Linked DNA regions of Homo sapiens: region 1 is linked to region 2. Evidence: fine-mapped expression QTL. Tissue or cell type: whole blood. Region 2 holds a variant in brackets; the other region holds the start of a gene. All regions are shown on one strand. Distances are between the middles of the regions.

Region 1 (8,000 bases), 120 kb before region 2:
TAGGTATTTTGGAAAATATAGTACAGTTTTCACATTTATACTTATTACTGCTATGAAAAAATTTCTGAAGTCTTTCCTTGCTGATAAGACATGGACACAGTCATGTAGAAGGATGACAGGAGAGGGCTATTGACAGTTGTGGTTTCTTAATTCTATAAAGCTTTGAATTGTACCAGGTCAAGTAATCAGTGCTTACTACATCTTATGAAAGTAAGTGATGCTTTAGTATGAATAAGAAGAGTATCAAATTTTAAAGAAGGAAGAAGGGAAGGAAGGGAGGAAGCAGTGAGGGAAGGAAAGAAAAGGACAAAGAGAGAAAGGAAGAAAGAAGAAGAGAGAAAAGGAGGTAAGTAAAGAGGGGAAGAGAAAGAGAAGGCTAGAAAATTCCATGTTATTGAGACCAATTTTTTCAATCTTATTTAAAAAGTCATAAAAATATGAAGTATAAAATGTTAACATGGGTCCATAGACGCTCCATCTCCAAAATCTTACTCTCACCCCCTACCCACTCACCCATGAGCACCAGTAATGTTTTTTAAGTCAGTTCCTCTGTATGAAATTGAGCTTTTTGGAGACAGAAACATTTTGCTCAGCTCTGTGCCCTCCTAGCATAGTGTGAGATCCTGTCCATAGTTGATATTCCATAAGTGTCTGTTGAGTGGGGTTATTTCTTCCTCAGTGAATGGCTTGTCTCGTGACAACTCAAATGAATTGGCAAATTCAAACACTGATAAAACTTGATTGCAGCCTCTGCATTCTATGTATTAGTACAATCTTGATTTGAGAACATTTAGCAAAATTTGCAACCACTGGTTTCTAAAATGTCTGTTCCATGCATTTGGGGAGCTCTTTTAATGATCCATCTACAATTTTAGACAGCGAGACATGGGATAGATGGGCTGAACAACCCCATTTTATAATATATTAAAATTCAAGTGAAATAATATATGTGAAACTATTATCCAAACTGTAGCACATTATGTTATAGTTACATATTGTTACACAATAGTGGGTTAATACTATAAGGATTACATTGTTATTGTTATTCTTGTTCATGAAATTCCATAGTCATTGATTTGGGTTAAGACATTGTCTCCAGAATGCTCATTAAATCCCCAGCCTTGGCTCCAAGATAATACCCATCCATCCTTCTTCTCGCAAAGGTTCATATGAGAATCAAATATATGAAAAGACATGGAAGTTTGTTTAATTCCTGAGTTATCTGCAAGTGTAGGAATAATAACAGGGTTCATATGAGAATCAAATATATGAAAAGACATGGAAGCTTGTTTAATTCCTGAGTTATCTGCAAGTGTAGGGATAATAACAGTTATTGAAGTCCATGTGCTAGTCACTTTTGAAGAAATTTACACTAATTTAAGTAACTCTCTCAGCAGCCCAGCCACACAACTACTATCTTGATTGCGTAGGTAAGAAACTGAGGCTTACGGAGTTGGGATTTGAACAAAGGTAATTGGACTTCAGAGCATGTATTTTAACCACTATTCTACAATATTACAAGCCCTTGAAGATTCTCTTATTAACTAGCTGTTCCAAGAAACTTAACATACTTCATGATATGTGCACAGATTTGCGTTTACCAAGCATCTGAGCCGAGTTTCTCCAGGGATCTGAGAGATGGGTGGCCAGCAGAGTCAAGGTCCCAAATCAGCAGACCTGAAGTTACATTTCTGTAGCAAAAAATAAGTGTATTTATGCTACAAGGGCAGGGGCAAGGGTCGACACTCAGCTCTCTCTCCTTGGTGCCCGAAGGAAGCTTAACTAAAACCTACATGATCATAAGGGCGGAGGAGAGTCTCTGAAGTATCATTATTGACATGCCCTGGGTGTGAGAGGTATGCTATCAACACTTAAACCTGCCTTCCTACTCGGTGTGACCCACGGAATTAACATCATACAGGGTATGGATTGGGCAAACAGGCATTTGTTCGTTAAACCCTCTCACACCAGTGCTCTGGGTGACCTCCTGAAGCTGGAAAAAGTACAATTAGGTGTATTAATTGTACGATTAACAAATTGTAAGTGACTTTCTGTTACTCGATATTGTTGGAGATTGGGTTGTGTGTGCTACTCAGTGTTTTGGATCAGCGAGTTGCCTTGTGCAGGGCACATTCTGATGTATTATCGATTACTATAGCCTTCCCTTTCAGCACACCTTTCTCTTCTCCTCTCTGACTTTCTCTGTGTCAGGCACACCCAGCTCTCTGACTGCACTAGCCCATCTGAGCCCTTTGTAAAGTCATCCATAAGCTGATATTTATTGAGTGCCTACGTGTGCCAGGCAGTGTTTTGAAACCAGAGACAAAGATTAGGTACCTCTTCTTGGGAAGCTCAAGTTAATTCAAATGTGCTTAATCGGTTCTCTCAGGGGAATATGCATTCAGAGACATCAAGTCTGGGTACACCTGGGAAAGGGTACGGTTGGAGGGAGCTGTTCCTACAGAGATCTTCATGTACCAACACAGAGGCAACCACCTACTTTGCTTACCCTGAAAGGTGGTGTTGCTCCCACACTGAGTACCAATATGAAAGCATACAATACAGGTACAGTTATTTGTTATGCAGGCTGTCTTGGAACTAGATGATGTTTCAAATGGCACTTCCCAAATCTGCCAGAGCCTCTTACCCTCTTACGCCTGTTATGATTTCTAGAATGTGCTGAAATGATCCCCAAACAGCATCTCTGGCTAATTGAATCCTGGCTAACAAAGAGCTGACTAAAGTGCATTTATCAATTGCTTAAGAATTCTTTATACCCAAATGTGACCTTGTGTTATAACTATCTATCATTGGCTTTAGAAAGTGGCAGGGTCATGGATCCATAAAAAGCTGTTAAGAAAAAACCAGACCACTTGGAAAGGCTGTCCCAGATCTCTCCAGACCAGTATCCAGGGGCCAGAACTTCTCTGCCCCCCATCCAGTCCAACACTGAATTGCAGAACCACCCTGGGTATGACCCAGGAAGAGACTTCTTAGAAGGCTTTCATCAGATACCTATCTAGAGGCAAAGTGCAGGCTAGATGGGTATGGGCAAGAGAAGAGCAGAGACAGCATAACTGTGAAATCCACCCCCGACCTGACCACCCTACATAGTAACCCTGCCAGTTGGTTCTTGCCTACTCATCCTAATGCCACCCAAAGTCTCTTACCCCCAGAACGCTGATTTATTGGTTTTGAGTTCGTGTTAGTAGCTTAAACTGTCTCCTTGATTTCTCTGTATTTGTTTATTTGTTCGCTTGGTTACTTGCTGTCTCCCACCCCTACCCCGAAAAAACCTATCAGCTCTACACAGCCTTAAAGTGTAGTTGCTAAGTTCCTCTCCGTATCCTCAGTTTCCAGAACAGTGTGAGCTGGCATATAGTAGGCGCTTAATAAATACTCATTGAAGGAGTGAATGAATGGGGAAGCTTATTCCAAGGCCCTGAACATGGACTTCTGGCAAGGGAGCCTTCCAAACGCTGGCTTGGGCGATGCTGCTGGGATCCCAGCCACCAGATCTTTAATAAGCCTCTGACCCCTTCCCGAGGGTGGAAGGGCGAACCGAGCTTGGCCCCCACCCACTAGCCGGACCCAGAAAATAGAAGTCTAAACGGCAAATGCATCCAGGGCTCCAACTCTCCCAGCAACCTCCAAATGAGGCTGACGGCCTTGGACAGGCGACGGCCTTGGACAGGCCCCGCCCGGAGCCCCTCGGCGGCCGCCCCCCGCCCTCCCCCGCAGCCTGCAGTTCCCCCGGGCGGCGTGGACAGCCCCGGCCGGCCAGCTGAGCCCGTGTGGGCGGCGCGGGCAGGAGCCGCCCCACACGCGTCCCGCGACGCCCGCTCCAGATGCGCCGCTGCAGGGCCCGGCCGCCAGCCGAGTTGGCCGCGCGCGCCCGGGGGAGCGCAGAGTTTGGAAAGTCTTCGAGAAGCTTCAGAGGAGGGAAGGGGGTGGGAAGAGTGGGGGTGCAAGAGAGAAAAACCCGCCTCTTGCGAGTTGAGCGAGGAAGAGGGGGGGGAAGGCTCCGAGTTCCGCTTCCTGAACGGCGGGTGGATAGAGAAGGTTGGCGCGGGGAAGACCGGCGGGAGGCGCGCCCCGGGCCCGCGGCGCGATTGGCGTGACCGGCGATGGCCGGTGAGCGGACCCGCAGGTTCACCCGGAGCCTGTTGAGACCTGGGCAGGCGGCCGAGCTCCGGCACAGCGCCGCGTCCGCCGCCGCGGTGGCAGTCAGCAGCCGGCAGCAGCAGCGGGTGAGTGCGGCGCGTCCTCCGCGCCTTCCCGCGCGCCCCAGGCGCCCGGGGGGAACGGAGCCCAGCTTCCCCAAAAGCTCGGCGGGCCCAGGTCCCCGCAGCTCACGGGTCCTCTCCTCCGCACTCCCTCCCCCGCCGCCTCTGCGGGCTCCCCCGGCGCCACCTCAGCGAGGCAGCGCCACCGACGCGTAAGGACCGGGGGCGCGTTTGTGCACGCGGGACGCTCAGAGGAGCAGCTGCGTGGGTAGCAGAAGCGCAGCGTGGGAGAGGATGTGCAGGGGCTTTAATGGGGCGCGAGGGGGCCGGAATGCACCGCCAGTCACACTGGTGCTAAGTGATACGAGTGCCAGAGACCCCGGGTGGGGTGGGGGGATCTACAGAACAGAACCCCTGAGTCCGGAGGTCTGCGCGTCCCTCTCACCCTCCAGTAAACAGACCAGTGCGCTGAGAGAGAGGGATGCAGTCCGTGGTCCTCGCCCTGGTTAGAGCTGGGGCCCCCCGACGTTAACTATCGCAGAAATAGATGTACTTGGAACAGCCCTCCCACCGCAGGGTAAAAACCCACAAACCACTTAATACTCCTCCAGAAAGGGCTGAGGAACACAGGCTGGAGGAGACGTGGGTCATTAGGTCTCCAGCGGTTTCTGATATTTTTCTAAGATGTTTCGCGGGGTTCTCCCACCAGCAATGCTTTACTGGTTACTTCCTTATTGAAACGGCTTCTAAGTGCTGGGTGATTTCCGCGGGAAGTCCCTGGGGCAGCAGCCAGCATCTGATGCTAGGATCCTATCCATACCAACCCAGATGTTCCTGCGTTGCAGTAGGTCCACACTGCCGGGGAGAGGTGGCAAGAGACAAATCAACTCTAGTGGAAACGGGAAGCGAGTGGGAACAACAGCCTCACAGCAAGACCGGGGCTCAGCAGCCGCGCTCTTGGCCTGCGTTTGGTGGACCGGAATCCGGGTTGTGTGTTTCATTTTCTTTTTTGCCAGAAAATATCATTAGGAACTAAACGGCTCTTTTTAAGAGTGTGAAAGTGTTACTCTTGCCAGTCACCAATGAGGAGGGCGCCAAAAGCTTCCCAGAGCCAGTTCCCACAGCCAGGACTATTCTCTAAAGCCAGAGGTCGGAAAGTTGAACAGAACGGAAGCAAATTGCCTGGCAGAGGGAAGAGGCATCGGGTGCCCAGGGGGTGTAGAGCGGGCGGGGGTGATTGGAGTGTGAAACGAATTGGTGGCCAGGGTGCCTTCTCTTGCACTTACACTAGCTGCAGTCCGCAGTTACCCAGAGGTGGTTCAACTGTTAGCTCACTCTGTGCCAGGGACAGCATGTGGTACTGCTATCAGCGTGCACATTTTCAGGACACCAAAGACAAACTGTTCAAAAGAACATTAGAAGAAAAGATTCAATTCGAGTAAAAGTAGAGATAAGAAAATCTCCACACAGTAGTAGAAAGTACTTTTTACTTTTGAATGATCATTCAGAATTGTGGTTTTGTCATTTTCTGCCATTCCCTTGACAAAAACTTTATTTTGCAATTGACTCATTGGACTGAATCTCACTGAGGATCTGATGGAAACACACAGCGTTCAATTGGAATAAACAGCTTAAACTGTTGTGTGTTTTTTTAAATGTAGATCCTCCTAGAATTTTTGTGGCACTAGAATTTCTATAAAGATTATGTATCCCAGATACCCTTCTACACCACACACACACACACACACACACACACACACACGCACTGCTTTCTCCAAAATTATGTCAGATTTGAAATCCTAGGGTATCTTGTCAAAATGAATAAGCTCGCTGTCTTTAAAAAGAGGTGGGGGAGGGGAGATTCAGTGGCAAAGGTGGTCCTGACTCCCCTTGCTTCGCTTCAGCACCTTGGCCAACACTCCTAAACTAGCTTTTGCCAAGACATTTCATGGGATCTTACACATCTAGGCAGGCAGTTTTGGCTGCTATTTTGGCAGCAAGAACGCATGTGCTTTGCATACTATCCCATCAGTTAACTCTTGAAGGGAAACAGGAAGGTGATGAGTTCTCTGAGCTGGCACCTGAACTCGGTGGGATTCTGTGGGTGTAGAGCATCCCTTCTGAACCTAAAACCGTGTCATTGGACTATGTGGTAGAGACTAATCTTAGCGTACATTGATGCAATCCCTTAAGACTCTTCATATCTGTTGCTTCAAGTTCTCAAAACATGGTTGTCAAGGGAGAAAAATGATAGGATGTTGGGGAAAATATTATGGATATCCGACTTCAGTACAGACTCATAGAACCGCGGGTGTGTATTGGAGCAAGCCATCCTCTATTGCAAGGTATTTGAAAGAGACTAGAAACTCCTGCTGAGAAAAAGTATCTTACTGCTAGATTTGTATATTCCCCTTTCTGAAATCCCTGTCTTGGGGACACAAATCCTCCAGGACATTGCCAAAAGATTGCCATAGGGTTTGAATTCTGCTCTCTCCAATAAGTTTAGGTAAGGTTGTCAGGTTAACAAGATAGTTTTCTTCCCTGAGAATGGGGTGTGTATACAGAGAGAGAGAGAGAGAGAGAGAGAGAAGACAGGAAGCCTTCAAAATGTGTTTGAATATGGAGAGGAGAGATCAAGGAGATGCTGAGTGAGGGTAATGACTGGGAAAGCCAAATTTTAAGGCAGTTGTTGAGGACAATACAGGTGTATGCCAAAGCAAATTTGATGTCAGTTTTTACCCAAAGCACTGTATGTAGTAGGCTTATGTACTTGCAGACTCCTAGACACGAACCACCTTATTCTTCACCCCTCCCAAGAACAGTAATGAACAAAAACATACATTTCAAAAGGAGAAATATTTGCTCCTTCATTATCCTAAAATTCCCCATAGAAAATAAATGAAAGACAACTCATTCGAAGATCAATTCAAAGGATCATGTCAAGTTCTCATAATTTCCTGAAATCTCATTCCTGATTGTTTCATAAAGCAAGCTTCTCTAGGGTAGAATTTCAGCCCGAAAATGATTAGAAACATTTGTCTCATATCAGAACTGGAGTGTTTTATTACATTGGTTGAATATACATACCATGTTGGCTTCAAAGTTGTAATGCCACTAATTAGAAATTCCTTTTTGATAAGAAGCTCATCTTTTAAAATGAATGAAGTGTATCTGTACCCTAGCATGAATTAGTTCATTTAGATAGCTTTCTATAATTCATTAAGATATACATTTAGGATTTGTGCACTTTTCTGCATATATATTGTATTTGAGAGCATTTCAAAAGAAAAGACTTTTTAAAAAAAGTATAGGTAAACTTTTTGCAAACACCCCATCAGATCTGTCACTTTGAGAGAAATGGAGTTTTATTTATGGAATGTTTTAGGTGGGTTAGTGCAATGGAAGGCTTCAGATAACCAGAAGGATGAGATCTACATAGAGTCAGATGATGGAAAGGAAGCATTTACTAGAGATCAAATAATCATTTGGTCAGTTTTAGCCCAAAGCCGTTCATCTATTTCCTAGACTGGAGCTTACCACTTTAGTTACATGCACTTTTAATGCCTTTATATTTACTCTATTATTAGACAAAAACTCCTTTGCAACTCCTTTTTAATTGTATCTAATTTTGTTATTAACTCATTTTAAAGAGAAAGCATCCTGCCGGAAGTGATTATACTTAACCAGGAGGTTTTCTCCCTTCCTACCCACCCAGAAAGTGTAAGGGGTAAAGAGGGGAAAGTATTTATTTCAGTAAATTCCATTTCCCTTCTT
Region 2 (8,000 bases):
CCTGCTTCTCTTGATAACACTTATCACCACTGGGAAATATCTTGGTTTGCTTTTTCACTCCTCTGTCACTTGTTTCTCACTGTTAGACAGTAGCCTCTAGCAGGACAGAGACTTCTTCTGTCTTGATTGTTGAAAGATTTTCAGCAGCTAAAGCAGAACTTGGCACAAAGCAGATGGAAAATAAATATTTATTTCATGAATTATCTTTCAGAAACATCTAGATTGCTATTTTATAACATAATGTTGATCCCTTGAGTACCTTGAGGAACCAAAAGGCTTTTCTGAAACAAAATTCTTGAGAACAAAGAGGATGAAGTAATTGGCTTTGCTTGATGGTAAGGAAAATACTTCCTGCTTTGGCACAACTCAACTCAACATATCACCTTAAAAAACAGCACTAAGAACACGTTTCCCTTTTTAAAGAGGCCCATTCCTTCTAACATAGTGCCTGGCTCATAGCTGATATCAGCAAAGCTTAGTTTCCTCCTTTTAACACTTTTTTTTAAAGAGATGGAGTCTCGCTCTGTTATCCAGGCTGGAGTGTAGTGGGAAGTCACTGCAGCCTCAAACTTGGCCTCTCAAAGTGCTGGGATTACAGGCGTGAGCCACTGCACCCAGCCCTCTAACACTTTAGTGTACTTCTTCACTTACTCATTCACTTCCTTTCTGTTACTAGACAAGGGACAAATCAGTTCATATCTGTACTTCAAGTACCCAACACAATGTCTGATTCATAGGCATTCAATAGATTATCAAACATTGAATTAAAATAGTTTTCTTCCAGGTTGAGGGCCTGACACAGAAGCACTTTCCTTTATTTTGGCACACCAGGTAGAAGCTAGTCCTCCTTGTATGTGGGTTCTGGGACTAAGCAGTATGAACTCCTGCACTACATGTGTCCTAATGATTCACTAAAATAAGCAGTATTGATGTATTTATTAAGCCATTCATTGCAAAAACTTGTACTGCTTCAATAATTGTATTTGCTACTTTTTTTCATCTTTCTTTTTCAAGCTGGTAGTAATAGAAACTTTAAAACAAAACAAAAAATAAAGAACTTAGTCACCAAAGTGTGTGACTCAGTAAAGTGGCAAAGAAAGTAAGAAAAGAAAGCAAGGGCTAAGAAAAATGGTTTCAAGGACACATTGAATCATATTGTCAAATGATTCAGTTTAAGAAAAGACTGATGCAAAATAGCAGAAAAAAAGTTGAGAAAGTCAGAAATGAGTTTCTTCCTGAGCAAAAGATGTAGAAAGCCTGAGATGGGATCATTTCTGGGAAGTACAAAACCATAAATAAGAAAGTTCTGATGTCTGAAAGCTGGTAAGACTGTACACTGTGTAGGAAGACCACCTATCAACTATACTTCAATTTTGTCCACACCAGTAAAACTCTATTTCAATTTACCTTCATGGACCACCTTTGGTGATCTAAGCTGTTTATATCCAGGACACCAATACGAATAAGAAGCAGACCTTACACTTGAACAGTTAGACTTTCAACACCGGGCAGTGCAATTTTCAAAGTCAAAAGTCTATGTCACATGACTACAGTCACCTAAGAGTCTCATTATCTTCTCAAATTCCATCTTCATATTAGTAGGTCAGAATTGTGTCCCAGGGTACTCAAAGGCATTCTGCACTTTTCACTGGCTATTAAAACTCAGAATAGTGGATATCATAATATACCAATGGCTTGTTCTTTTCATAGTATGTCTTTAGCAATGAAAAGCAAATGGTATATGGGGACTTCTAGACTCAACCACAAGGGTCATTCTAGGAAAGGAAGCAGAAAGATTTGAATATGTTTTAAACTGCAAATCAGTAAGGTCATGAGTTTTCTTTCTTTTTTTTTTTCTGAGACAAAGGTTAACATTTTATAAGAATCTCAACCTCTTTTAAATCTGTGGCTTTTGAGCCTGAAAAGCAGGCTTTTAAACGGCTCCTGGTGTTCATGTAAGAACATTGTAATTTCAATTTGAAAACTGAGTAATAGTCTTTGTCGAATTAGATTCTTTCTATGTTATAATATTCCTCTCATTTACAAGCTAATGAAGTTAAGATTTGGAAAGGCTGTTGTTCAAGGAAATAGAGCAACTGGAAGGACAAACACCTAACATAAGCACCTTGACTTTTACTATTAGTTTCTGTCTAAACAGCATGCTTTTGGCCGACGCTTCTTAGAAAAAAAAGGCACACAAGTTGGGGGAAATATTAACTTCCTGAATCCCACAGTGAGTGATGCCATTAGAAAATAAGTACTGTAGTGAAACAGTTCTGGTTGTTTATTTCATTTCAGTAAGAATGTGTGTGGAGACCCTGGTCTGTGTTTGATTGTGCTAAGAATGTATGTCCACACCAGACTTGGACACAAATGTTCATAGAAGCATTATTCATAATAGCCCCAAAATGAGAATAACCCAAATAATCTATCAACTGATGAATGGGTAAACAGAATGTGGTATATCCATAAAATGGAATGTCATTATTATTCAGCCATAAAAAGGAATGAAATGTTGATACATGCTGCAATTTAGATCAACCTTGAATATATTGTATTAAGTGAAAGAAGCCAGTCCCAAAAGACCATATAGTCCACGTATAGGAAATGTTCAAAATAGGCAAATCCATAGAGAGAGAAAGGAGATTAGTGGTTGCCATGGGCTGGGGAGATGGGAAAATGAGAAGAGAATGCTAGTGGATATGGGGTTTCTTTTGGGCATGATGAAAATGTTCTGTAATTAAATCGTGGTAATGGTTGCACAACTCTGTGAATATACCAAAAACCACTCAATTCTATACTTTTAAAGGATAAATTTTATGACAGATCAGTTATATCTCAATTAGATGGTTTTTTTAAAAAGCCATTCTATGTGTTAGGATAGAGGTGGTGCACGTGATCACAGGAAGGATACAAAGGAATCATGAAAGCATATATGTAGATACGAGCACTTTATTCTTTAAAAGGAATGAATGGAACATAGCAAAGGAGTAATAAGGAACATGGCAAAACTTATTTTACAGTTGTTATATTTTACCCCCAAAGCAGATGTAATGTGGCTTGCTTATAAACAATAAAACACACAGGTAAAATGACCGGCTGAATTCATCAGCAGCATAACCTTTCGGCCTAAAATATTCTATGGGTAAGCTGCAGACTTCATGTGTGCTACAGAGAGTAAATAACAGCATTCAGGGAAGAAAAATGTGTGTTGGATGAATTAGAAAGCTTTTGAAAAGGAGCTGGCACCTATACAAAACCTGAGATTTCTAAAGAATGAGGAAAGAAAAAGACTTTTGGAGAGGCAGAGGAGCATGGGCAAAGGCCCTGTGCAGGAATGAGGCTGGCCCTGAAGGAGAAATGCGGGCAGCCAGGTGGGATGGAGCCGGTGAGAGCTGGCAGTGCTGGGCCGCTCTTCAGTCCATTTCTCTTCCCTAGACCATGTCTGCAGGCCTCGCAGCAGGCAACCCTCTTCACTGGGCTTTCTTGGATGGTAAACTCAGACCACAGACCTCAGAGTCTTTGCCAGGGGGAGGTCCTGGTGCAGTAGGTGTCTTTATATTGTTGGAGCACCTCGTTTCTATTAATGCTCACATCTTCCCATATGTAGAATGTTTGGTCCTCACCTCTTTAGAGGAGATGAGACATGTTTTGGAGCCTGGAAAATAAGTCACAAAAAAGAAGTGAAATGACTGGCTCAGTAGTTTGTCAATCCAAGAGTAAAACACCTTGAAGTTCTTCTTATAGGATTCTATCACTACTATATACCTAAATACTACAACACTGTGTCTTCATGCTTAACTTGGCTGGAATGACTGCTATCAAGTAATAGACAACTGTTCATTATTTGTATATTTGCCATACAGTTCAACCCCAGCAAAACAAGAAGGGCCTTCCCTTTAAAGCACAAGTCAGGTACTAAAGTAATATTCTCATATATTTAAACAATAAGTAAAATAAAATCACAACAATACTCTTCTGAATGTGGTAAAAGATGTTTTTCAAGAAACTAATGTAATCTAAGGACATTCTCTAATAGAATAAAAGACAATATCGATGTCTGAGAAATTTAGGTTAAAATCACTTTTAAACACATGCTGAGGGTCATTAATCACAAAGTTTTAGTTAATAGTTCTTATTGTGAGGCTTATAACTCCCCAAGCTTAGACTGATTGATTACTTTAAACACCATCATTTTGTCCTCCTTTTTGAACAGGGGGAAGCTACAATACTGTCAGAGGAAGCTTTTCTCAGCCCCAAGATAGGATAAGCAGCCCTTTTTTAGACTTTTACAGTGACCTTTGGCCAATTGAGAGATAGTCCTGATGTGCTTGGAAGGAAGTCTTCTGTAGCCAGTATAGCCAGCAGATTGGTGGCTGTAACGAAACCTCCAAGACCATCCACTGCAGGCTACAAGAAACCAGAAAGTGACAGGGCTGCAAGGGAGGATGTCTGAATCTCATGGACCTGAAACTATAAACACAGGCCTGCATGCATCATTTCAGGACAGTTTTTATTTCCAAATGCCTGATCTCTGGACAATAGATAGGCTCCTTATGAAATCCTACCACCAAAGGAGAAGCTCAGCTGAGTTCCACTGCAGTTTCAGATCCCTTTTATGCTATTGAGCTATACTAATTGTTGACCAGAGTTTTATAAAAGAGAACAGGAAATCTCTTGTGGTCAAGACAATTTGTAGTG[G/T]TCTGAAAGCATCTGATTCTCAGAAAAGAAAAAATTCTTTGTAACCATATTAAAACCCTTACCAAATATGATTGTTTACAGTTTTCTTTGTATTCGATCAATTCATTTTTGCTTCAGTGGAGACACATTAAAGAGATCTAAAATGAGAAGAAGTGCCACAGTTTTTAAAGTGGAAACTTGTGGAGTCCTTGCACTTTTTTTTTTTTTTTTTTTTTTTTGAGATGGAGTTTTGCTCTTGCTGCCCGGGCTGGAGTACAGTGGCGCCATCTCGACTCACCGCAACCTCCGCCACCCGGGTTCAAGCGATTCTCCTGCCTCAGCCTCTCGAGTAGCTGGGATTGCAGGCATGTGCCACCATGCCCAGCTAATTTTTATTTTATTTTATTTTATTTTTATTTTTAGTAGAGACGGGGTTTCTTCGTGTTGGTCAGGCTGGTCTCACACTCCCAACCTCAGGTGATCCACCCGCCTCAGCCTCCCAAAGCGCTGGGATTATAGGCATGAGCCACAGCGCCTGGCTGTCCTTGCACTTTTTCAGACAAATGCTCCAGCATTATAATAAAATACAACTAAGATCAATAGCACGTTATGGGCATACATCATACATGTATTCTCTTTCCTATACCTTGTGTAACCTGCACAGGATATTAGATATGCAATAACTGCACATATTGTAAAATAATGTTTTAGATTTATCACATGGTTCCAAGAGCATAATTCAGCCTGTTGTCTTATTTAGTAAAAAGTCAACATCATTTTATAACAAGAGACCACCAGGCATTGTACACGTGATTAAGCAATTTTTGTAACTCGGCCTGAATTAATTCGCAGTCTCATAAATTGGATGTGAACATTACCTTATGTATTTGGGGGCCTATCTAACTATAGGACATTACTAATCTAGTAGCCATGTGATTACTGTTATGGGGAACCCAAGCCTACATTCCAGAAACTTACCAATAAAACAAGCAAACAAACAAAAAACTTCTTAAATTAGCTAAGTGTTCACGTTAGTATTATTATTTATTGAAATGGAGTTTTGCTGTTGTTGCCCAGCAACATTGCTGGAGTGCAATGGCATGATCTTGGTTCATTGCAACCTCCCCCTCCCAGGTTCGAGTGATTCTCCTGCCTCAGCCTCCTGAGTAGCTGGGATTACAGGTGCCCGCCACCATGCCCGGCTATTTTTTGTGTATATACATTATATATATATATATATATATATTTTTTTTTTTTTTTTTTTTTAATAGAGACGGTGTTTTCCCATGTTGGCCAGGCTGGTCTCAAACTCTTGACCTCAATTGGTCTGCCCACCTCAGCCTCCCAAAGGGCTGGGATTACAGGCATGAGCCACCGTGCCCAGCCCACTTTATTTTATTATGTCACAGAGCAGTGATCGTAGTGGGACAGTAAGTTTACTACATAGATGGAACAGGGAGTGGTTGTGTCACATGCAAAATATGATGGAGCCAATTTGGATCTTATTATTTATGTTTTACTTAATTATAAGCTTAATTCTGGGCCATGTTACTCTACTCTCCATCAGACTTAAAGTATTTTTTTAAAAAGTCAAGAAAGCAATGGAGACTCTAGTGGAAAATGGAAAAGAGGAATAGCTTGCATTTTTGTATAAAAATTTTATTAATAATGGCCATAATATAGAATTTTTTTTTAATTAGAAAGAAAAATGTCTAATGTTCCCAGTAGATTATAATATGTAATATTCCCTGGAAACCAAGCAACACCATATATCTGTAAATTATCCATCCGAATAGGAAACAAAGGCATCCCAGATCATTTAAATTCAGCAGTAATCCCCAAAGCTCAATTTAGGCATGGTTCTTAATATTCTACTCCAAAACTTCAATATAGTTTATTTACTATTTATCTTCTAACAGAGTGAATAGCATAAAATAAGCAACTTGAAGAAGGGAACTCTAAAGGAATTAAAAATGTAAAATGTAGGCCAGGCACAGTGGCTCATGCCTGTAATCCCAGCACTTTGAGAAGCCGAGACAGGCAGATCACTTGAGTCCAGGAGCTGGAGACCATCCTGGACAACATGGTGAGACCCTGTCTCTACAAAAAAAAAAAAAAAAAAGTGAAAATTAGCCAGGCATAGTGGTGCGCACCTGTAGTCTCAACTACTGGGGAGGCTGATCACTGGAGCCCCGGAGGTCGAGGCTGCTGTGAGCTGTGATTGTACCACTGCACTGCAACCTGGCCAACAGAATGAGACCCTGTCTCAACAACAACAGCAACAAAAAGTAAAATGTAAATAATAAGATCCAAATTGGCTCTATCTTACTTTGCATGCAAAGCAACGGCTCCCTGTTCCATCCGTGGCACTATGCTTGCTCCCTGCACCTATGCCTGGTTTGAATTGGTAGCCACAGCCTCTTCTGAGTATACAGCTGCAGTTAAATCCTGGAGCAAGTGCAGTGGCCCAGGGAGCTCAGTCCACAGCTGTGCTTTAGGGCGAGCATTCATTTTCATCATTGATGTCTCTAGATCCTAGTTTTCTCATTATTTTTCATCCTCTGATCTTATTAAATCTACATGGCATTCTTCCTCTTTCACAGGATACAAACCCCGTGCTTCCCGACATGCATGTGCACATGCACACACACTCACACCAACACATCACACCCATTCACACGTGGACAGACACACGCACACTCTACACACACACAACACTCACCACACACATTCACACCACACATACACACTGACACATCACATTCATTCACACATGTACACACATACACATGCAGACACACTCCACACACATTCACATACCAGACACACCACACACATTCACACCACACGTACACACTCACACCACACATACACACCATCCACACTCACACTGACACATCACACCCATTCACATGTGTACAGACCTACACATGCAGACACACTCTACACACATTCATATACCACACACACCACATACATTCACACCACCTATACAGACACACATCACACATACTCATACCACACATACACCACACACTCACACTGACACATCACACCCATTCACATGTGTACAGACATACACATGCAGACAAACCTACACACATTCACATACCACACACCCACATACATTCACACCACACATACACACCACACACCCTCATACCACACATACACATCACACACATACAAACCCACCACACACCACACATACACACACCACACATATACGTGCCACACATACACATAAACTCACCACACATACATACACACACTCCCCACACACACACACCACACATACACCACACAGACCACACATACAC

The links. PIP is the estimated chance that this variant, and not a neighbour inherited with it, causes the effect.
Region 1: DOCK10 starts here. The variant in region 2 is fine-mapped to the expression of DOCK10 in whole blood (INTERVAL, PIP above 0.99).

What each region holds. Positions count from the first base shown.
Region 1 is chr2:225,038,502-225,046,501 of GRCh38, reverse strand. DOCK10 (dedicator of cytokinesis 10) reads left to right here and starts at 4,034. Exons shown (of 56, transcript NM_014689.3): 1 at 4,034-4,250. The coding sequence starts at 4,128. RefSeq lists silencers at 3,638-4,007, 4,198-4,437 and an enhancer at 4,988-5,327.
Region 2 is chr2:224,919,039-224,927,038 of GRCh38, reverse strand. All of the region lies in intron 2 of DOCK10 (dedicator of cytokinesis 10), which reads left to right. Among named protein-coding and RNA genes, the nearest start is that of MIR4439, 88 kb to the left of the region's middle. The variant G/T (reference allele first, on the strand shown) is at 4,702.